3 separate regions of the Homo sapiens genome follow, and all the other regions are linked to region 1. Evidence: fine-mapped expression QTL. A gene starts in region 1. Each other region holds a variant in brackets. All regions are shown on one strand. Distances are from middle to middle.

Evidence for each region.
Region 2: its variant is fine-mapped to the expression of PRUNE2 in lymphoblastoid cells (GTEx, PIP above 0.99).
Region 3: its variant is fine-mapped to the expression of PRUNE2 in whole blood (TOPMed, PIP above 0.99).

The regions. Positions count from the first base shown.
Region 1 is chr9:76,901,809-76,909,742 of GRCh38, forward strand. It overlaps PRUNE2 (prune homolog 2 with BCH domain), which reads right to left and starts at 4,306. Exons shown (of 19, transcript NM_015225.3): 1 at 4,120-4,306. The coding sequence starts at 4,155. RefSeq lists a silencer at 4,376-4,435.
Region 2 is chr9:76,708,789-76,716,722 of GRCh38, forward strand. PRUNE2 (prune homolog 2 with BCH domain) reads right to left here. Exons shown (of 19, transcript NM_015225.3): 7 at 4,775-4,933; 8 at 1-2,570. Among named protein-coding and RNA genes, the nearest start is that of PCA3, 52 kb to the right of the region's middle. The variant C/G (reference allele first, on the strand shown) is at 2,904.
Region 3 is chr9:76,700,385-76,708,318 of GRCh38, forward strand. It overlaps PRUNE2 (prune homolog 2 with BCH domain), which reads right to left. Exons shown (of 19, transcript NM_015225.3): 8 at 4,377-7,934; 9 at 2,953-3,715. Among named protein-coding and RNA genes, the nearest start is that of PCA3, 60 kb to the right of the region's middle. The variant C/T (reference allele first, on the strand shown) is at 5,340.

The DNA of each region.
Region 1 (7,934 bases):
CAGCTGTCACTGCTGAAGTAGCAGATGCATCCCCTGGACTGCAGTAGTGACTGTCCACCTTCTTGTTGAAAACAGCATTCCTGGGACACTGATGTGCCCTGTATCTTGCTGGTGACAGCTGACAACATCCCCACCCCCGCCACCCAAGGCTGGCTCCTGACCTACATCATAGGGCATGAGGGCTGCGGTGATCTCCACCCATTAACAGCTGCTTGAGTTGCATCACCTGGGGGGGTCTGGGCAGTGAGGGAGGCTCAGCAGCAGAGGCCCAGTGTGGGGAGCCTGGCTTCCTGCCAGCCAGAGCCTCAGAACTCTCTACCCATCCCCAGATGATTCCTCATGTACTTCATTTTTTCCCCCCAAACTTCATGGGAACATGGACCATTTACTGCCATGAGACTGTCCTTGTCCTGAATACTTTCCTGAGCTGACCACTATGAAGTTGAGGGTCATTTCCCAAATCACAGCATAGAGCAGGGAGCCCTCATTCCCTACACTCCTTCAACTTCTCTTACCATAGAAATGATGTAACTAAGAACAGAAAGCATGGCTAAAACTTAAGGACTGATCTGGAATATAGGATTTGATTTCTGCAACTCTGAATGGGCAGGAGAAAAAAGAAAATACGTTTGCACTCTCTCTAGTTTTGGTAGTAAGTATCCAGACCAAAAATATGGCTGGGTTCTCACATCAAGGAAGTGATTTCAACTAGGAAGCGCCACTCTTTGATTACGATCTCAAGCTTGCGGGGCTTGCTCTCAGATTGCTTATCCTACTGTTATTATTGCTTTAACAATCCTCGTGTCAATTCCATATGTGTCATTCCTTGTTTGTCTAGAAGGGAGCATTTCTGGAGACTGCTTGGAAGAAGTAACTACCTCCCTAGCCGTGCCCCACCTCCAACCAAGTTTTTCACAAATATGCTCCAGCCCCCAGCCTGTCCTAACCAGGCAGAAGTCAGGCCCACATGAGAAGCATTTGAGCCCCAGGAGGAGGGATGCCTCTGAGGCCACACCTGGAGTTTACTTTTGCCATTTCTGATAAATACTGAGTATTCTCAGGAGGGAGGGAAAGGTATTAGAAAGGGAGATTTAGGGAAAAGGAGGATGGGATTATGTCAGTGAATCTGCCTCAATTTAAAGAGTAGTAGGGCCAGACTGGGATTAAAAATAGAATTGAGAGTGATCTCCTAACTTATTGGAAATCAGCTCCAAACTACCTGATAAAAATTCAAAATATCCTTTTCTTTCAAAGACTTCTGTTCAACCTAGGGGCCTGGCCTAGAATAGCAGAGTTTCCTCTCTCCTTACAATGACAGATGAATAATAAATGTTCCCAGTCAGAAAAAAAGACACACAATTTTTCCAACATTTTGATTATTGGAGATTATATCTATGGCTAATAGCAATTCCATTTTGCAATTTAAAGTTCTTTTTGCCTATTGGAATTAGCTAGCCCCAATGATGATGAGGTTATGTTAGGACTTTGGAGGAGTCATTAACTATTTCAAACCATTAAAAAATATATATAATGCCCACAGAATAACAAAGCAATTAAGCCAAATAGGAAAAAAAAAAACCAAACTAGTAATTAGGCTTTTTTGTTTGTTTGTTTAGGTATCATATAGCTAAACTTCTAAAGAAAAACATTTAAAACATAGCTCCTACATTCTAATTCTGGTCTAATAAGGCTTAAGTAAAAATCAGCATGGTAAATTTCTTCACCTTAAAATGTTTTCCAAAGGATTGGCTGAATTTTTAAAAATCTTACTATTTTATTTTATTTTATTTTATTTTTGAGACTGAGTCTCGCTCTGTTGCCCAGGCTGGAGTGCAGTGGCACAATCTCGACTCACTGCAACCTCCGCCTCCGAGGTTCAAGTGATTCTCCTGCCTCTGCCCCCCTAGTAGCTGGGATTACAGGCACACGCCACCATGCCTGGCTAACTTTTGTACTTTTAGTAGAGATGAGGTTTCACCATGTTGGCCAGGCTGGTTTCGAACTCCTGACCTCAGGTGATCCACCCGCCTCAGCCTCCCAAAGTGCTGGGATTACAGGCGTGAGCCACCACACCCGGCCAAATCTTACCTTTTTATTATAAATAAATTTCCCACAAGTGAATGACATTGACTTAATTCTTTTTCTCCAAGAAAAAGGTTATCTACCCTCTAAAGGAGAATGTTATCTACTACTATATTTGAGTGTCATACATTAAGTAAAAATCTTATTACCTAGAAAATGTAACTTCTCAGGAAAATATGACACTAAAAGTGACCAACACACCTTTGCTGTGGCTGGATGTGAAAGGTTAATCATGATTTCTAGAAGAAGCTTATTCCAAGAAACGATAAAATTAGCAGTAATTGTTCTGGCTAAGACATGAAACTGGTAACAATATTTCAAACAACCGCTTCTCTTTCCTGTCCTTTTTTTTTTAATGATGTAGAGCAATTGCTCGTCTAATGAAGGGTAAATAAATTACAGATTACTTTCAACTCATTACTCGGAAATAGGGAAACTTCCATTCCAGCAACTGCTCCTCAGAATTGAGACAAACCTCTTGCTCATATCAGACCCCACAGTCTAAATGTTTATTGTGAAAATATTGATAAATAAATGTTATGGGAGTGAAAAACAGATACAGCCCAGAACTCTGTGTTTGTCATTGATTACCATTTTCATACACACACACGCACAGTTGCCAAAATTGTCTTTCATTTTTGAACATTTCTCCTTCATTACTAGGTAAAGAACAGAACATGTACTTATACTATCAGAAATGCCAAATACTTACTTGAGTTTCTGAAATTAGTATTTTCATCCATGTGCTCTAGTAAAACTATAAAAGGGTCAATAAACACAGAGATGATCACAAACTTCCTCAACTCGGAAATCTCCACAAACGTTCAACTCTCTGGGAGGTTTCAGGTAGAAAGTTTTATATAAGCACTTATCAACTTTAATGGTCTTTTACAAGATAGTTACAGTTAGACCATTGTAAGGATCACACTTCCGTCTGCACTCTGAATGGTGGTTCAGGCATCTTTGGGCCCTCCCTTCCTGCACTCCCTTTGTTGTGCGAGGGTAAATGAGTTACAGTAATAACCCTGCAAATATCCTGCCTTGTGATTAAAACATTACCTTAATGCAGACTTTACATTTTGGCTTCTATGAAGGCTTAAAGGTTAAAGGCATCATAAATTATGCATTTCTTTCTATGCCAGGCCTGTAAAAGGTGCTTTTACAGTTCTTTAAAGATATTGCTTCTAAATGAGTACAGGCTTTTCTTTTTTTTTCTGCCAAAACAGAAACATTTCCATTATGTTTATTACTGCTGTGCTGGAGAGCCAAAACAGTTTGGAATTAAGAAACTGCTAGAGTCTGTTGTTTCAGAATGTGTAGCAACTGTTAACATACACAGTGGAGTTGCCCATTCACTGTTTGGACAGTGATATGGTAAACATGGGCTAACACACAGGTCTGCTCCCGGGAGAACGATGATCTGGTAAACTCCAGAACACCAACAGTTAGAGCTTTCCCCTTCTGCCTCCGCCCCAATTTACAGATGTGAACAGGAATTAGCGAGACACAAGACACACTAGAATATCCCTAACTCCTGCAGTGGAGCAAGCTCTATTCTGTGGATTCTCCAGTACCACACATGTCCTTGCTACCCAGCACCCTGACTTCCTCACTTTTGTCACCTCCAGCTGAAGTACAGTTCTAAGGGTCTCTTTTTTTCCTTTTACACTTACACGTAATGCATCTGCAGAAGGCTGGGCTCTTTATCTCAAGGAAGACCACACCCATTTATCCCTTAGCTTTCAGGAGCAAACTGCTGATTTAGGGACCGAAGCTGGACTGAAGCGACCCAACTTCAGCCAGGCCACAACCTCCTTCAGCTCTGCACCTCGTCTGGTTGCGGTGGAGGATTCTGGAGACAGATTGCCAGCTTTAAGAGCCAGAGTTCCTGAGATTTCTTCCAGGAGACAACCCGCACACCCTGATAACTCCGTGGCAAAGTTGTTTCTTCCTCCTCTGCTGCAACACCTTTTCCTCTCCACCTTTCCATTAGCATACGCGCGCGCGCACACACACAGCTTTGCTCACTCAACTTACCAGTTTAGATTTGGCGCGTTGCAAAAATTCTTCCATGTCGTGGCTAGGGGTTTGGAACCCGGGTACTCGGAGGGGCGCAGTGGAAAATCTCGGCCCAAGGAAGACGAGCGGGGTCCCGGGAAAGTGGCCCGCCGGGGCGCAGCGACCGACTGCTCCCTCCTGCCGCTCTGAGGCGGCTGCGGCGGAGGCTGTGCTTGCGCCCTCGACCGTCTCGCCCAGGGCTCCCCGCCCCACCCCTCGCCCGGCCGCCGGCTCTGGGCACCCGACTCTGCCCTAATAAGGAAAGTGGGTGTGCCGCCCAGGAGCCCCGGGGCGCGCCGGGCACGCTCTCTGGCACGCGCCTCGGGCGCCGTGGCGCGTGGGCGGAGGTGCAGGGGTATGGCGAGGGGCTCCTCCGCCAATCGCAGGGCCGTGCTGCGGCCTCCTGACGTGGCGCGCCGAAAGCTGCTGCAACCATGGACAGCGCCCAGAAGTGCGAGCCAAGTGCAAGGGGCTGCTGCAGAGGGAGGCTCTGCCGCAGGCACCGCCGCGGTCAGCGGGGGAAGGTGGGAAGAGGGAGACGGGTCCCAGGAGAGCCCCCGCCTCGCCCAGCGCCTCACTGGCTGGCTGGCGCGTTACGGAGCACTCCGGCGGTCACTTAATGATCTGGTCGGCTGGCCTGGCCGGGGGAGGCACTCAGCTAGATTGGCGTGGGAGGGACGAGGAGAGAAAGAGGGGAGTTACTGCTGAGCTAAAAGCAGTACGACCTTGATGGATAATAATCAGAAGAGCAGGCTAGGAGGTTGGGCGAGGCTGCGTCTTTCCTCCCTACCATGAAAACATGTCCACACAACAATGGGCATCCACAGTTCACCCCAACTAGGTGCCCTTATGTCAGCCCTGGGACTAATGCATAGATACATCCTTCTGCAGTTCCCATCCACTGACATGTACCCTCAGGGAAAGCTGGGGCAATAGAACCTTGCTAAGGTGAGGTGCAGTCTGCAGACCGGCAACATCAGCATCGCTGATCTTATAGAAATGCAGAACCTCAGTCCCCTGCTCCTACTTACCAAATCAGAATCTGTGTGTTTCTATGAGACCCTCAGATGATTTCTATGCTTGTTAAAGTTTAAGAAGTACTACAATGAACAAATGAACTTATATCTACAAACCTTATTTTAAATCATGGGGTTTTGTTGTATGTAGCCTTGTCCGGTCCCCAAACACACTACATCAGGCTTTCTCTGACCTCTGGGCTTTTGCACACCACCTGTAAGATCCTTCCAGCCCTTGTCCTAGCCCCCAGCCTCAGCTGTTCTACAGAAGTAGCCTCAACCCTGACTGCACAGTAAAATCACATCGTAATCACCTGAGACTTGAGAAAGTACTGATACCAGGGCTTTATCCCAGTCCAATTAAATTAATATCTCTGGGCATGGGGCCACAGCATTTCTGTGGAAAGTGACCCAAGTGATTCTAATGTGCAGTTCAGGTGTGATGCTCTGATTCTCGATGAACTTTACATGTATCTAAATCACTTAGAGGGCTTGATGAAACACAGATTTCCGTGCCCCATCCTTAGAATTTTAGCCCTAATAGGTGTGGCTTAATGGGCCTGAGAATGTCCATGTATACAATCTCCCAGGGTTTGCCGATGCTGCTGATCCAAAAACCACACTTTGACAGTGAGTGGCGTAGAAGTTCTCTTTCTCCAGAAAGCCTCCCCAACACACTTTTCCCTTCCCATCCCCAGACTGAGTTGGTTGCCCCTTCTGTATTCCCTCATAGCAACTTACATTTTCCACTCTGCTATAAATTGCATAATTATTTGTCTATGTCCTCCACCAGGCTGTGAGCTCTGTAAAGACAGGGACCTTGCCTGTCTCATTCACTGATGGAACCCTAACATGATGTATGTTCATGTCATATACAGGTCCTCAATAAATATGTTTTAATGAAAAAAGGTACATATGGAAGGGTTTTTTTTTTTTTTGCTCTATTTCTCCTGTCTCAATGTGTGTCTGTTTTCTTGTCTGTCTCTGTGTGTATATGTGTGTCTCATGATCCAATTATTTTTTATTCAGAAGGATCCAATGAAAACAAATCAGCAGGGTCCACAGATCTGATTAAAGGAGAGTGATAAGAATATTAAGCTCCAGGTGACATTCAGGGGTGGGCTTTGTGGAAGCTGGAGATTCTGTCTGCTTTCTGTACTGACTTAAGTAATTTAAAACCAACCAGGTAAAGCAAGTATTTTGTCAGCCTTTAAATCTGTGAAGTTGCACACAATTCAAGTAACATTACTGAGAAAAATTCTAGAGAATGCCTTGCCTCTGACTTCACTGGGGAATTTAGCACCAATTACATAATACTGTTTTATTCCTCTAGCTTTGGCTTATAAATATTCTAGGTAGGTATCACACATCCTTGAAATGTTAAAAAAAAATTCTGATGGACTCAAATTCCAACATCAATCTCCCCATCTTTTTCTCCACCAATAATGTCCCTTCAAAAGTTTATCAAAATTAACATTTTCTATGAAACCTTCCTAAGCTGACCACCTATATTAGCTTCCTGGGGCTGTTTTAACAGAATCTCACAAATTCAGTGGCTTGAAACAACATAAATGTATTACCTTACAGTTATGTAGGTCAAAAGTCCTACACAGGTCTCATTGGGCAAGCAAGGTATCAACAGAGCTACATTCTTTTTTAGAGGCTCTAGGGGACAATCGACTAGAAGCTGCCCATGTTTTTTGACTTGTGGCATCTTCCTCCATCTGTTTTTTTCTTTCTTTCTTTCTTTCTTTTTTTTCGAGATGGAGTTTCCCTCTAGTACCCCAGGCTGGAGTGGAATGGCACAACCTGGGTTCACTGCAACCCCTGCCTCCCGGGTTCAAGCTATTCTCCTGCCTCAGCCTCTCGAGTAGCTGGGATTACAGATGCGCACCACCATGCCCAGCTAATTTTTGTATTTTTAGTAGAGACAGGTTTCACCATGTTGGCCAGGCTGGTCTGGAACTCCAGACCTCAAGTGATCTGCCCGCCTCGGCCTCTCAAAGTGCTAGGATTACAGGCATGAGCTGCCGCGCCCAGACTTACTCCATCTTCAAAGCCAGCAACATTTCATTTCTCTGACTGTTCTTCTAACCTCCTTTTCCACTTTTTAGGGGCCCTTGTGTTTACATTGGGCCTATTTGGTTAATCCAGGATAATCTCCCCCATTTCAAGGTCAGTTCATTAGCAACCTTAATTTCATCTGAAAACTTAATTCCCTTTGCCATGTAACCTAACATACTCATAGGTTCTAAGGATTAGGTTGTAGACATCTTTGGGAGGTCATTTTTCTGCATACACCACAAACCATACATGATGTTATTTGGTAGCTATCGGCATTTGATCCTCCAATTTTTATGATTCCATAGCAGCCAGAAATCTAGTGACTTTAACTCTAGGTAAGATATTGTCAACCCTGGCTGCACAGTGGAATCACCTGGGAGCCTCCAAAAAAACAAACTAATGTTCCAAGCTCCATCTCTGGAACATTAAAACAGAACAATTCAGAACAGAAATTCTGAATTGAGCGATCTTGAGAGGGGCCCAGGCATCAATATTTTTTCAAAGCTCTCCAGGTAATTCTCCGTGTAGTCAGGGTTGGGAACTACTGCTGATGTTAGATGAATTCGCATTCCTCAGTCACTCAGGTACAAAACCTGGAGTTCCCTTTGATTTACTACACTCTGCCACCCACTGTGGCCAAATAGTCCCCAGTCCAAAGTGTTCAAACTTTAAAAAAGCCTCCTTCAACTTCCTTTCTTTCTATTCCAAGCACTA
Region 2 (7,934 bases), 190 kb before region 1:
TCGGAACCTTCAGCCATGTATCCTTCTGTTTGACCATCACTGGGGATTGCCGCACCCCCACTGCAGTCATCCCAGTCCAAATCATTGTCCATATCTGAGATCGTTGCAGTGGACTGAGTATCCTCCAAAATCACTCTGTTCCACAAGTCGAGACTGTCAGGGGCCGTCTGCCGGGAGTTGGTGCTGCTGTGCAAAAGTGTGAGTTGTCGGTTTGTTTCATTGTACAGTTGCATCATGCTGGGGTCGTCGTAACTGGACTGGCTGCTTTCCCCGACGTCATCCTCCATGGAGATATTCTTACCATCTGTGTGCTCTGTCTTGAGTTCATTTTCATCCAGGTTGTGAGTGGTATTTATTTCAGAACTGTTATCTGTATGAGGTGAAGCCCACATGTCTAGGTTCCCAGGACCTGAACTGATTCGATTTCGAGATGACTGTTGCAGTGACTGAGGAGGAATGTCAGTCTCCTCTGCCGTGGAGTTACCATCTTTTGACTCAAAACCTTCCTCTTTAGCAAATGGCTTGTGTTCAGTTTCCTTTTCGTCTCCAGCAAATGTTGGTGATGTGTAAGAGTCTGAGGTGGAATAATTGGTATCTAAGGGGGAAGGCACCGAATCTTCTCCTAGGTTGGATGCACTGTAATCAGAACATTTGTAAGATAAGAAGGAATCTTCCCAAGGAACTAGGACATCTGACCCTCCTTTCTTCATATTCTCCTCAAAAAGGTTCCAGGAATCTACCTTTTCATATACCTTGCCCCTAGTTTTAGGATCCACTAAACCATTCTGATCTTCTTTTGGTGGCTTAGAATTAGTCCATGTGTGATCCAGATCAGAACTGGGATTTCCAGGTGCAAAGATGTGATCCCTGGAGTCATTGTTTTTCTTGCCCCAGATTTCTGGAGCTGCTTCATTGTTTATCTCACTGGGTGAATTGTCCAGTAGTTCTGAAGAAGAAAAGGCAAACCCACTTTTTGCCATGGCCCACTCATTCGGGTCCCTAACAGAAGGTGTCTTGCTGCTTGTTGGGTGCAAATTCCAGGTATTTTTTAAAGCTTCATCATGATCTTCTTTACCAAATGCACTCCAGGCTGGGAATGGCGCCACAGCTGCTGGTTCACCATCATCTGTAGGATTTCCCCAGGGCTCGGGCATGGCTGTGGGAGAGCGACCAGAATGCCACAAAGAAGCAAAGTCTTCTATCAGGTGGTTTGTTCCTTGGGGAGATGTATTTGGCAAAGGTGACTTCTCCATGGGCAGGTTCTGGAACGGCAAGCTTTCCTCATTTTTGTCTTGAATATCATTGCTACCCAGTTCAGGCTGACCAAATTCAGACTCCCAGGGACCTGACTTTGTAAATTCGAGGCTCTTTGGTTGAAATACAGAATCTGAGGCTCTCCTATCAATGGAGCTTGGCTTATGCTCTTTCCATGATTCAGGGCTCTGGAAAACAGATTCCTGTTCACTGGAACTCCACGCATCTGCAATATTTTTGGAGTCAATTTCCAAACCACCCCACCAGCTGCTGCACCGTGCATGGGTCTGAGGTGGCCCCATGTGACCTGTGTCAGTTGCTTTTTGGGTCATATCTTCTGTATAGAGTGAGGCTGGTTCTTCAGTGGATGGCGAGCTTTCTACTAAACTATTCATGGGTGTTGGTGGGATCCTCTTTCCAGTATTTTTTAGCCTTTCTGGGGAAGGGGATTCATCTCCCACAAAATCTGTCAGGCTCAAATTTCTTTCAGAGTTATCTCTGGGACTGTCTTGTCTCTGGACAAACTCCTCATCATGTTCCACAAGGCTATCTTTGCCAGCCCCTGACAAAAGTGAACTGGATGAATAATTAGACATGTTGGTTCCCATGCCATCAAGTCCTTCAGGCCCAGCGGGGAGCTGTCCTTCTGACAGGTCACTGTTGGGGAAGAAGTCATCTGCTGGGGAGTAGTCTGCAGAATGAGAAGATTGCTGGGACTGCCCAGAAGCCATGGGTGCTGGGTCAAAATTGAAGAGGTCGAAGTGCTCACCGTGTTCTCCAGACCATGCATGTTCCTCCGCCACCGCCCCTTCAGGGATGGGGCTGTAGGAGTCAAGCCCTGGGAGAAGGGTGTGGTGAGGCCCAGCACCTTCTCCCACGGGGCTGTCGTCACTGAGGAAAACAGAGCTCTCCTTGGATGAGCGGCTGCTCCTAATGGTAGCCAGTCCGCTGTCTGGGCTAACAAGGTCTACATTGGCATCCACCTGAGCCTGGTTAGAATCATTGAGATCTGGAGGGTTCTCTATGAAATTCACAGAGCTGGGTTGTGGCTCTATGTCAGAACCATACAATTCCATAATCCCAGAAGACCCCTGGGAGAGGGGGGCACTGCCTGCCACGGCTTCTGTTGAGGATGTCCGGCTATTGGAGACCATCTCTGGACACCTCCTGTTGATGACTTCCTTGACAACGAGAACCACCTGATCACAAGTCACTGAAGGGTCCTCTTGTTGGTACACCAGGATCTCATCACAGCCACAGTCAAAGGGCTCCAGTTCTAGGCAAGGGTTCTGACACTCTTCCAGCTCACAGCAAATCTGTCGGAAGGCACAGGAATTTGTGTCAGCACTCAAGCACTGTTGCACTTTGCAATTGCACTTTGCAATTTATCTCGCTTAATTTTTAAATATAAAATTAATCTGTGTTCATCTGTCTGAAAAAGAAGATCTCAAACTTAGAAAGTTCTGATTACTGTACCACCAACCCTTTCTCCAATTCTATCCAACTGTCTCTCTGTTTAATTCAAAATCCAGGTGCTCGATTTTGAAGGCTCCTGAACGTTTGGGTAAAGGAGTTTAAACCACCTATTCTTTCCTAACTGTAATATAATACCATCTTCCAATAGCAATGTAATTCGAGTTGCAAAAAAG[C/G]AGAGATAATGCATGTTGCTGACAACTATAGGAAAAGTGTTGGAATAAGGGGACAATATCAGGAGACAGGCTGTTGTTTGGGAGGGGGCAGCCAGGGCTGCTTGAACCTCTGATAGCTTCAGAATGCAAAAGAGAGAGTAGGAAAGACAAAGATGCTCCCGCAGTCTGATCTTTCCGAACAGCACTCAGGACCCCTCAGTCCCTTTCACCCCAGGTAACGGAGGCATGGAGCCCAAAACAGGCAAAGCTAACCTGGGAGGCAAGGGGACACTGACGGATGGTCAGTGTGAGGCCAGAACTGGGTTACGGCTTTCTGATTTTTAAGGAATGTCAGGAGTATTTTGTTGTGCTGGGCCTTTGAAATGGCCCCACGGGATTAGTAGAGATAAAATTAATAATAATAATAACAACCACCACTACCACCATGGAGCTCACATAGATACTACTACTACTACTAATTAACATTTATTGAGTGCTTTCATGTGCCAGGCATGGTTCTAAGGGTTTTATGATCATTATCTCTTTTAATCACCACAGTAATTCCACAAGGTAGGAACTCTTTTTATTCCTATTTTACCCATGAAGAAATGAAGATACAGGAAGATTAAATAACTTGTCCAGCAACACACAGCTAACAAGTGCTGGAGCCTGAGTTCTGTACCCAGGCAACCTAGCTGCAAAGGCTGACTCGGCCAGTGGTGTGACCACACAGGCCAAGAGGAACTCGCTAGGCCAGAGCCAGGACTCTGTTGCTTAAGATTCCAGCGATCCACCTCTGGCTATTGCTAGGATGGGGAGGGTGGGTGGGGAGAAGAGAGGAGGACTGGGGTCAACTCAAGAGCTTTTAACTCCTTCATCTGCTCTTCTACTTTTGTCTGTTTCCAATGAACCAATTTTCACATTGGTTTGAAAAAGGGGTCTACTGCTAAAAGTGATGTGAAAGCCGCCATGTTGTAGGCTTCCAAGGCCTAAATCCCGTCCCTGGGAAGCCAGTGACCAAAGATGAAATTTAGCTTTGAAACCAAATGCAGAGGAAAGTGATGAAAAAACCACAGGCTGGTGATGCAGGTCAGAGGAGGAGATGCTCTTTCACATTCGGACTTGAGAGAGCCCGAGAGTACCCATAGGCATGGGTCAAGAGAGCTACAGTGGAGCTCTTGGGGGACAGAAAGGAGGATGTAGAAAAGAAAGGGGCAGAGACTGTGCCTCTAGCCACCCATGGATACATAAGGCATTGAATCCATTAGTGAAGAGAAATAAGTAATGAAGCATCTGGGGCCCCGTGTGGCTCCTATTATAATGAATCATGTATGTTCTCATATTAGTTATTAAGTACACCTGGCTTGGTATATCCGATGGCCTATTTTGATTAATTTATCTAATTCTTTTTTTTTTTTATTTCCTAGGCCTTGGGTTAAAAGACTCAGCTATCAACCTGGAGGATAACTGATTACCTAGTCAGAGTTCTGGTACCTGGAGACAAACTAACTTTGATTAAAGCATCAGATCACCAGGTCTTAAACACTGGGCACCAAACCGGTCCTGGGACAGGGGCTAAACCTTGTCAGTTATGATCAGGGAGCAGTCCTAGAAGAAAATAGCACCCAAAGGAGAACTTGCTCTTTTGGGAATGAGAAAGAGCTAATGTTTTGCACTATGGATTCAGTCAAGAAGAGAAATGCTTTTGGGGCTTTCTTAAAAGGCCAAATGTAAAAAGTACCCCCATCATTTCCTAAAACTCAAACCTCTAGGACTCTACCTCTTGGGCTAATTGCTCATGAGCCACCAATCTGTTCTGTCTTGCACTGTGTGTTCTGAGAGCCAGCAGGTTAGGACAGAGGGAACATGACGGGGTCAGAGGAGGGGCTCACCTGACTGCACAGCTCCATGTTTTCTGAGTACACAGCAATCTGTCGTCTCGGCTGCTGCTCCTCTGACAGATAGCTGGAGAACAGGATGAGGACATCAAAACCAAACTTGTCTGTAAATGCTTTCAAGTCACTGGTAATATTGCTGTGAAATAGACAATTCTGAAACGACAACAGGAAATTTGATATTAATGTCAAACTGCCCAGCTGCGGGGAGTTGTTCCACAAATTTGTCCAGTCTTATGATGTATTTAGGAGAGATATTTATTATTTAAGGCAAGTGAAATACAGTTTGCTTTGAGAAGGAGTGGAAACTTTCATGCTATGGCTTAAAATACACTTTGCTTGTTTGTTTTCCCAAACCATGTAAGAAAGGAGTTTTTGCCATTATTAATAATAGTTTAGACAAAGAACAGATATCCTAAACATTTTTTTCTAAAATATTTATTCAGATGCTTAATTTGCAAATCCTATTTTCCCTCTTGTCGCTTATAGGATCTATATACGAATGTCTGCTATTGTTACAATTTATCACAATAAGAATAGGAGGAAGTTATTTCTTCCTGTATTTTTTTTCTAATGATTATTATTAACTCCAAGGAGAAATTCCTACGAATCAACATAGCTGAGTTTACTGGGTGATCTTTATTCCAGTGTAGAATTCTGGGAGATTTTTAAAAGAGCTGTGATGTCAGATTTGCTTGTTCTATGTGGCAGCTGTGGAGGAATGAATAATTGCAGAAAGGGATCCCAATACCTCAGATTACCCAGATGTGGCTCATATCATTTGCAAAAATGTTCTGGCTGCTTCAAGTTTTATTTACTGTATGTATGTACTTATTTATTTATTTTTGAGACAGGGTCTCACACTGTCACCCAGGCTGGAGTGCTGTGGCGTTATCTCGGCTCACTGCAACCTATGCCTCCTGGGCTCAAGCAATCCTCCCAGTTCAGCCTCCCAAGTAGCTGGGGCTACAGGTGTGTATCACCATGCCCAGCTAATTTATTGTATTTTTTTGTAGGCGTCAGGTTCTGCCATTTTGCCCAGGCTGGTCTCGAACTCCTGGGCTCAACTGATCCACCCACTTCATCCTTGCAAAGTGCTGGGCTTACAGGCGTAAGACCGCACCCGGTCCGGTCTTTGAGTTTTATTAACTACAATGAGAGCCACTTTCTCTGTGTGGGTGTCTCTCTTCCTTAAAGAAGTACAGTGAAGAACATATGCTAGCCCCTAACATAATGCCTGGCATATACTAGTTGTTCAAGAAATGTTTGTCGGATGACTGGAGAGACAGGTACACAAAATCAACCTGTGCTCCATCATCCATAATCTTCTATCATAGTCCACATATATATCTATCCTAGCACATATATGATCATACCACATAATTCATCAACTGACAGTCTATTGTGTCACTCAACAAAAAACACCATGATGTGCACTCAAGGGATTTAAAAGATTCTGTTCATTTTTTCTGATTATAATAGCAATCAGAATTATGCCTGTCATGGGTAAGATACTAAAACAACACAGAAATGTGTACCACAGAAAGTGGAAGTGCCACACACATCTCCTAGGACAGCCACTGTGAAGATGTGAACGATGCCGTGCAGAGAGTTGCAGATTTCCCCATACCCACATTAATGTCTATGTGGTCATTCTTTGAAACTCGTGGATTGGGTATTTGTGGCTTAGACTATTTACCAGCCACTTCAAAAAGCCATCATACCCGTACTCTGTAATTCTGCTGAGTTGAATCTCAAGGTCTGTGAGGCTCTGAAGAGGGCACACAAGACCCTGGGTAGGTAGGCAGGCAGGCCCCGCCCATCACGGGCTTCCATGTTTCGAGGAGGCTTTGCTGTCTACTCCAAGGCAGCCACTCTCATCTGGCATCTTACTGGGCCACTTTCCCTTTTTTGGTTGCAAGGAATTGCACATACGAATCCACAAAGGTCTCAGGATCTATTCTCATGCTGATGAACATCAAGGATCTATTGTAATGACATTTATGATCATATAAGTCATATGCGTTTGGAACATATGCTTTTGGAAGTGTGTGTTCCAAAGTGTGTACTGTCAGCTTTCATGCTTTTTATTTATTTTCCAAATGGCCTAATAACAATCTTTAAGTAGATGTTTAAAAAATTAATTCATCCACAATAGAAAGACATTAAATATTTAAAAGGAGATTTTTTAAATAATCAAAACTCATATACAATGTGTGTTCAACAGATAAAATTATTTCAAACCATCATTGAGGGTGAATCAAGAACCTCATTGCTAAACTTGTAGCAACTATGAACTGTAAAAAAAGATATAGCCCTGAAAAAAATAAAAAGAGACTACAACTAACTACAACTTATTTCCAGTAACTGAAGGCTTCAGCACAATAAGCCTTACAGTTTTCCTTTCTAAGTATTTTTCGTTATGTATATAAAGGCCTCCAAATACATTTATAAACCCTTGAAAGAAGACACACATTTCTAAGAGATTTTTACATATAACAAAATTCTCACTACACTCCTGGCCGGGTCACTGAAACAAGAGGGGGCAGGTTTTATTTGTATCTGAGCATAAGATTAAGAATCAGTAGAATCAACACTGTTCAAAGCCACACTTGTGGAAAGTTTCCTATTCAAAAATGCCGGCTGATCTCCAAACTGTTTTAATTCTTCTGTGTTAAACTGATGGCTCTAGGACCTCGATGGACTCAAGTCCAAAAGCATTGGCAACACCAGGCATCTTGTTGGAAATGCAGAGTCTCCGGCAAAACACTAGACCTATTGAAGCAGGATCTGCATTTTCCAACAATCCTAGGAATTGGAATGCACGTTGAAATCTGAAAAGCACTACTCCAGAGAGGGATTTATTAGTTGATATATTTTCCTACAAACCAGTCCTTTGGACTCTCTCAGCACTGTCACAGGACTTGTACTGACTCACACTGCCAGCTCTTTGTTCCTATGGCAACCTCATCATAAAAGTCCCCTTAGGGTGTGCGTTTCTGGGCCGATTTGCTACAGGTTCTCATTTAGCAGGTTGGGCACTGGATCAAGACTATATTTTCTTTTTCTTTATTTTTTTTTCAGAATGGTATAGGTATGTTTATTTTTAATTTAATTTAATTTTTAAAATTTTGTTTTAAGTCCTGGGATACATGTG
Region 3 (7,934 bases), 200 kb before region 1:
AGATGTTTCCAGGTTTTTGTTTGGGAAACCACAGCTATCTCATTGTTTTGCTTCTGTGATTACCTTCCTGTCCCCATGGCTTCCTTCATAGTATTCATCCCAGTTCACTCAGCTAGCTTCTTACCCTCTTCTTTGCCTTTCCAAATTATGACCTTTCCTTTAGTGACTTTCATAAGCCCCTTGAGGAGTGCCTTCATAAGCCCCTTCTGTCATTAAAACATTTTTTAAAAATTTATTTTATAACTTTGTTGGTATAAAGACAAATCCACTTGAAAGTATAATAATTTTTTCTTCTGACTATAAAAGAAAATATTCTCATGGGCTCCTTAAAGTATCATGGGCCCTGGGCACTCTGTCTCCTGTGTCTGACAGAGAATAAGCCATTCCTGCTGCCTGCTCCATAAAGGCGCCCGAAACAGATATCTCTCCTCTTATTTCCTCACTTGTATAATTCTTGTCTCGCAGGGTTGCCCTATGTAAAGTGAAATAGCGCAGAGTGCTTAACACCTGGTCCAACAGCAAATAGCCTGTAGTTAGTACCCATTTTATACTTAAACTGACATTGGGCATTGACTAGCTTGACTTAAATATTACACTGCTATCTACCTTTTTACTTATGTCTAACTCTTTAGTTAAACTGTAAACTCCTAGACGGCTGACAGTATGTTTTAAACCAGTGGTTCTCAAGCTTTGGAGGGCATCAGGAGTTGCTGAAGCTCAGCTGGCTGGGCCTCACCCCCAGAGTTCCTGATTCCGGAGGTCTGAGTCGGAGCCGATAATTTGCATTTCTAACAAGTACTCAGGTGATACTGATGCTGCTGTTCTTAGGACCCCACTTAGAGAACCACAGTTTTAGACAACTCTTTATTCTCCCAAAATCTAGCACAGAGGGAGACTTACACATTCACAGTAAATTATTTATGCAAAAGATAATACACATGCCGGAGGGAAAATCTGCCCCATCCCCATTGTGAGAAAAGTTTCAGTACTACAAAAGCTGAGCAGAAAGGGATGAGCAAAGAAATCTTGTTGAAAGAAAAGGTGCTGGTGGCACAATTGAACACTGACTGTCATCTGTTGGATCTCGGGGCATGTGCAAAATGCACACAAGAAGCCAAACAATAGCTCAGCCAACTCATGGCTGCCTGAGTTCTGAGCTCAATCTATAACAATGCCAGCAGGGCTGCTGGGATCCATCTGCTACTCTCTTTCTGATAACGGATCTGGGGTCTCTCTGGAAGAAAATAGCTTGACAGGAAGAAAGAAGGATTAGGCCAGCTGACAATGTCTGGATTTATGAAGCTGCCCTGGAATATGGTAGAGCTTTTAACCCCTTCTGCACTTGGCTAATCCTCAACATACCCCAGCTATTCTTTCCATTGTCCTTGTTCCTTTCATCAAGAAATGTAATTTGTGAATGCCAAAGCTCCCCTGGACACATTCTGTTTCCACACAAATTAAGTTCCCAGAATTTAATACTGCAGGAAGCCTTGAGATCTTTCAGCCCAACTCACTAATTTTACGCATGAGAAAACCTAAGCCTGGGATTAATCCTAAAATGTATAATCAGTCATGGTAGAGGCAGGCTGGAATCCAGATTCCTTGACTCACTGTGGGTATGTGATGTGTATAGTCCTTTACACTCCCAAGCTGAGTAGCAAAAATATATCTTTTCTCGCTTTTTTTTTTTTTTGAGACGGAGTCTGGCTCTGTCACTCAGGCTGGAGTGCAGTCACACGATCTCGGCTCACTGCAACCTCCACCTCCCAGGTTCAAGCAATTCTCCTGTCTCAGCCTCCCAAGTAGCTGGGATTACAGGTGCTGCCACCACCCCAGCTAAGTTTTGAATTTTTAGTAGAGACGGGGTTTCACCATGTTAGCCAGGGTGGTTTCAAACTCCTGACCTCAAGTGATCCACTCACCTTGGGCTCCCAAGGTGTTGGGATTACAGGTATGAACCACCGCACCTGGCCGATATCTTTTCTCTATTACATTTTAAGGAGAAAACATGACTTTCCCCGTTACTTAAGTTACTTTTCACAATTTGTTCTTTTGTCCCTGGAAGCAGGTGGGCTTCATAAACACAAATGAAGAGAAATGAAGAATGCTAAACAGTTTCAGCAGAGACTGGAAGCTTGAGGGCAGTGATGACATCCTATTCCCTGATATATGCCCATTGGCTACCCAGAACCACGGCACAGAGCAAGCTCTCAAAAACCACATGGTGAATGAATGAATGAATGAATCACTGATTTAATGACAGTTTGCCAATTTCTCTGCCAATTAGGGAATGAATGTGTTACACTGAGATTTGGAGACTGCTGTGGAGCCTGTCTCTTATCTAACTATAAGTTAGGTGCTTACATAAAACCAGAAAATGCCTTGTATTTGAAAATATGAAAATGCCTCTGTATGCTAAGCGGTGTGTCAACTGAGAAAGTACAGGCTTTGGAGGTGGCAAGCTTCGAATCCCAGGTGTTCACTCTGGTTACTTAATTCTAGGCAAATTATAGAAAATTTCTGAGCCTTGAATCCCCCTACTCAACCCTACTCCTTCCATTCCCCCCACTGGCATGTTAGGATTAAATGAGATAATGTATGCAAACTGCCTTGCACATAGTAGGTGCTGATTAAATGTTAGTGTCACTTCCTTGTATTCCCAACTGCCTGTTGAAGAGTCATGTAGGTATTCAAGTAGGTGGGGTGGCAGTTGGGGGGTAGGTATAAGACTGAATGAAAATTGAAGGGGCTTTTTGGCTGAAAATGTACATAAATTATCATTATGGTTATAGTTATCTAGTAGCTGCTTTTACTGATGGTGTGCCTTGCATTCAATATAAGCAAAGCTGCTATCATCCAGGTATTCCTCATATTCCATAACCTCTAACCATTTCCCAGGTTTCTAAATAAATTGCTTTTCAGGAAAAAAAATAAATCTAGCTTTTTGCTTACCCATTTGGTCTTGATATCCTGGTTCCGAGCTCAAGGAACTCTGTCTCCTCCTCCATTTCCGTGTCAGGGATCATGTTTTTCTGAACAGGCTGTGGTGAAAGCATTTCCCATTCATTGTCATGGGTGACAGCCTGCAACGTAACTGCATCCGGGCCAGCCCTGCCTCGGCTCTTACTCTTCTGTGATTGGCTGACTGGACCAGAGGCTTCCTCTAGTGCCAAAGATTCTAGAGGCTTCATTTCTTCCAGAATCTGCAGCTGGGGACCCTCACCCAAGCCGAGTTCAGAGAACGGCTCCACAGTCTTGCCAGACCACCCAGGCCCTGAGTCCCTGGCATCCAGTGATGGATCACCAACCTCACTATGGCCCAAGAACATCCAACTCTGGTCTTGTGCAGGGCTTTCAAAAGATGATCTCGTATCGCTTTTAGAAGACATTTTCTCTGCAGAGAGACCTTTTCTTTCATTTAAGGAGGCTGGCTGACATGTGTCTGGGAAGCTTGCTAACTGAGTTCCCTGCAGCCCTGTTTCTTTGGAACCTACATACAATTCTAATTCAGCTATGCTTTCTCTTTCTTCACAGGTCTCTGGCTTTGAGTGTGAATTTTCTTCACGGTTTACAAGTATGTAATCCATGTGTAGTGCATGACGATCTTCATTCTTCTCTGTACATCTTTCTTCCTTGTATTCTGATTTTATCTGCTCAGGCTCTTTGGTAGGAATTGTTTTTTCTTCTTCCAATTCTGATATTTCCTTGCTGGCACCTAGAAGTGGAAGTTGAAAGTGAGAAGAGGAGAAAAAGGTTTAATTAACACATTGTGTGATTTGTGATCCTTGCAAATGATCATCTAAAAGAGGTAATTTAATATTTTTTATATATTTTATTTATTTATTCATTCATTCATTTGAGACAGAGTCCCGCTCTGTCACCCAGGATAGAGTGCAATGGTGTGATCTCGGCTCACTGCAACCTCCACCTCCTGGTTTCAAGCTATTCTTCTGCCTCAGCCTCCCGAGTAGCTGGGACTACAGGCACCTGCCCCCACGCCCAGCTAATTTTTGTATTTTTAGTAGACATGGGGTTTCACCATGCTGCCCAGGCTGGTCTCGAACACCTGACATCAGGTGATCCCCCCTCCTTGGCCTCCCAAAGTGCTGAGATTACAGGCGTGAGCCACCGCGCCCAGCTAGAAAATATTTTTATTTTGTAGAGTCATTCGATTTTCTCGTGCACTATCAGGAATAGGTATTACATATGCACTAGATTTTACTGCTGTTATAATACAGGACTTAGTGAGGCATGCCTTGAAAATGTAGTTAGTTTTCTCTCTACCCTCATTGGTAGGAAGAGTGTGTCTTACAAATATGCACTAGTTTAATCAACGCAGCAGTTTCTTGGAAGTGGAAGAATGGAATGTTTCTTACCATTTGGTGGTCCTATGTCTCCACCTGCTGGTAAATCAGAATTATCTGTTTCTACTTCCCAGTCAACGTTTGATGGAGACAAAATGTTGGAGCCTGCTCCTACCGGCAAATAAACGGACTCAGGGTCTTCACGAATATGCAGCACAGCCAGCTGGGATCCAGGCAGTCTGTTTTTGGTCTCAGCCTGGTTTCCCTCACTTCTTCGATCAGGAAGTGCAGAAAGCACTATCTCTGCTGCTCTGCATCCCAGAGATTCATCCTCTGGAGACCCAGCTTCCTCTATTGTTTCAGCACTCTGGGCAGGTTCTGTGAGATAAGACAAATCAAAGGGAGGTGTGTACGGTGCCAGCGACTGCTTCAGAGAATCTTCCTCCAAAGGAGGGTCACCACCATACAGGAAGTGTTCAGGCTCTCTCAGTAAATCTTCATCGATATTCTGGCCCATTACATCATATTCAAAATCACCCCACGAGGCTTCAGATGAGCAGATATCTTGCTTCCCTAGGTCCCCATCAACTGGCGTTTCCGGATGGCCTTCGGATAATGTCAGTTTACTCATGTCATCTATTGTTCCCGTGGATGTGTTGAGACCTGAGGCATCGCTGAAACTGTGGTCAAAGGCAGCTTCGCTTATATCCAGACAAGTGTCTGAGGCTAGCAAAGCATCAGGAACCAAGGCAGGATTCTCTGTGGATAAATGTGGATCACCATCAAACAAAGCTCTTGCACCAGGCTGACTTTCAGGAGAAAAGCTGTCTGATATCCAAGAACCGTCACCTTCTGGAGTTGGCTCTTGGTGAGTTACAAAAATGCTAGTTGCCACATTTTCAATCCTTGGGATTCTTCTGTCAACTGGTTCCAAAATTGGTGCCATATCTGGGCTGGCTCCTTTTTCTGATACTTGTAAACCTGTACTGTTGTCACCGTTTATTTCAGAAGGTTCAGGTGAACCTTTATGAGAGG[C/T]GGGCTGAGAGGAGCCCTTTATGTCTGCTTGATAGCCAATTGGAGGCAGCACAGTTGCGTTTTCAGAATCGAGTTCTGCATTGGATGGGACAAACTCCCGTCCAGGCTCATAAATGGGTTCTTCATCTATCTCTGGCTCAGTGAGACAAAGCTCACTGGATTCCACTTCAGGTCCCATGCAAGCACTGAGGTGCTTCTCAGTCTCTTGCTTTGCTTCAGAATCGTGACATATATCAGGGCTGTCGGAAGCCTGAGAATTGCTGTCATGTTCGCAGTGCGTCAGGATATCAGGATTCTCACCATCTGCTTTCAAACTGAAGGGCTTCTTAGCATCTATCCACAAGTCAGGCGCGGCAGAGGCCAGCTGCCCACCCTCTTGAAAGTTGCCATGTAAAATATCTGGCACAAAGGTACCTCGGGAGTCCTCACTTGGGGTAGAGCCATCCCATTCAGAGCCTGGCTTCATTATCAGTTGGGTGGGAGAACTGACAGCAGGAAAATTTTCTGTGGCAATGCTTGAATTTGTCATCTCACCTAGGTATGATTTTTCTTGTTCCCACTGATTTGTTTCTTGACCTTCATTAGTTGAAACATTAGATGTAACACAACTATTTTCCTCTGCGTGAGTAAAGGCTGTGTCCGGATGATCACAGACTGGCAGCATGGTGTCCTGACACTGCTCTTGGGTAGGTGTTTCAGGAGTCAGCTCATCACCAGCAGCAGACACAAAGGTTTGCTCTCTTGAGTCCTTTTCTTTAATTTGGTCTAATTTTACAAGCTGGCTGAACTTGTCAGCATCTGGGTCTGGCTGCCTTGGTTGAATGTTCCAGAGTTGCTCATGGGAGTTCTTCCCATTACCTTCCAGAAAGGGTGACTGATGGTTGTCACTAAAAGGATTAGTATAGTGTGTTTCCACGGGCTCAATATCACCCTGAACTGGTACTCCCCAGGGACTGGCATTTTGGTGTACTGAAGAATTTATCTCCAACACACCACTGGAGTCAGACAGCTCCCTTTCAAATGGACTTTCAATTAGTCTCCCTTCCTGGGGTGAGGCCTTCCACCACTCAGTGCTATCAGCTGAGAAGCCCAGCATTTCCAGTTGAGAATTATCTTCGTTCTTTGGGAACGAAGCTTTGGGAGATATTTGCCATGCAACATCTCCTGTTGTCCCTGTTTCTGGAGAAGATCTCTTCTCCTTCTCCACTGCTGTAATCTGCATTTCAGTCTCCGTTAATGGTGAGAAAGTCCAGGGATCAGGGCTGCTTTGTTGATTGTCACAGAATGGGTTTGACTTATTCTCATTCTCTGCTGGCTCTGAGCTGTCTAGGTAGTCATAAATATTTTCAGACTTAGGATCAGCTGTGACCAAGAACTTATTAGATTCATTCAATGAATCCCAAGCTCTGGATTCATCCTCAGCAACGTGGCAGTTGGCCACCTGGATCTCTTCCTCTATTGACTCTTCACCACCGACACTGTCATCATCAGAACCTGAGCTTGTTGAAATGACCCTGGCATCCTCTGGCTGCACAGTTGCAGAAATGTCATGTTCATTTTTCTCCTGGTAGCTAGCAATTAGATTGCTTTCCTGATGTGTCCCTGAATGTTCAGAATATTTGCCTGTTTCAGGACTGGATAAAGAGGAAAAGGAATCACCATCAACTGAGTCATTCCAGATCTCTAAAAATGTAGGAGTTTTGCGATCAAAGCTCTTTTCAAACTCATTTATTCTGTTTTTCTCTAAATCCTTCACTTTGGTAACTATTTCTACTTGGCCATCAGTGGTAATTAGTTCAGATTCTTGGTGATTCTGTTCACTCCAGTTGCCTTGGTTTTCTTCTTGATACCCAGAACTGGGTTGCTGGCCCCAGGAGGACAGTGCAACTGAAGAGTCATTTAACTCAGGACTTGATGCACTTGAATGAGTATACTCACTAGAAATAGTATCTCTGTCAAAATTTCCAGACGAACCGGCTCCTGGAAGGCTATTTTCAGACCCCTTAACGTCAAGATTTTTGGTTATCTCAGAACATGTGCTGCTGACATGCACATCACTGTCTATAGGGACGTCCCCAAAATCAAGACTTCGGGGAACTCTGTGAGGTGGCCCTCCACCCACGTTCTCTGGCTCTAGAAAGTTACATTCTTCAGTTTTCTCAAGATCCTTTTCAGGTACAGATACATATTTTGTGAAATTCATCCCATCTGAAGTCTCAGTAGTTTCACCTGAATTTCTTTGACTCATGAGGTGTTTTTCATGGGTATCTTTTGGCTGCAGGTTATCTGCGGACATCCCTGTTTGCACATCACGGGAGTCTAGATTGTAAGACCCCTCCTCATACTCTAAAACTTCCTCTGGTTCCTCGGTTTGAGGACTGAAAGTGACAGCAAGAGAGCTGATTTTGCCTGATTTAATGCAGATTTCCTGATGTTCAGATGCAACCAGAGAAGACAGTTCCTGGTCACTCTGCCCTTTTTCAGAAATCCCTGAGGCATTCTCCACACCAGAGGCGATCACCTCCTCTTCATCAAGGTGCCCCCTGTCAGTGGCTCCCTGGGCTTCCTTCTCACTTTCACTTTGTCCATCGCCAT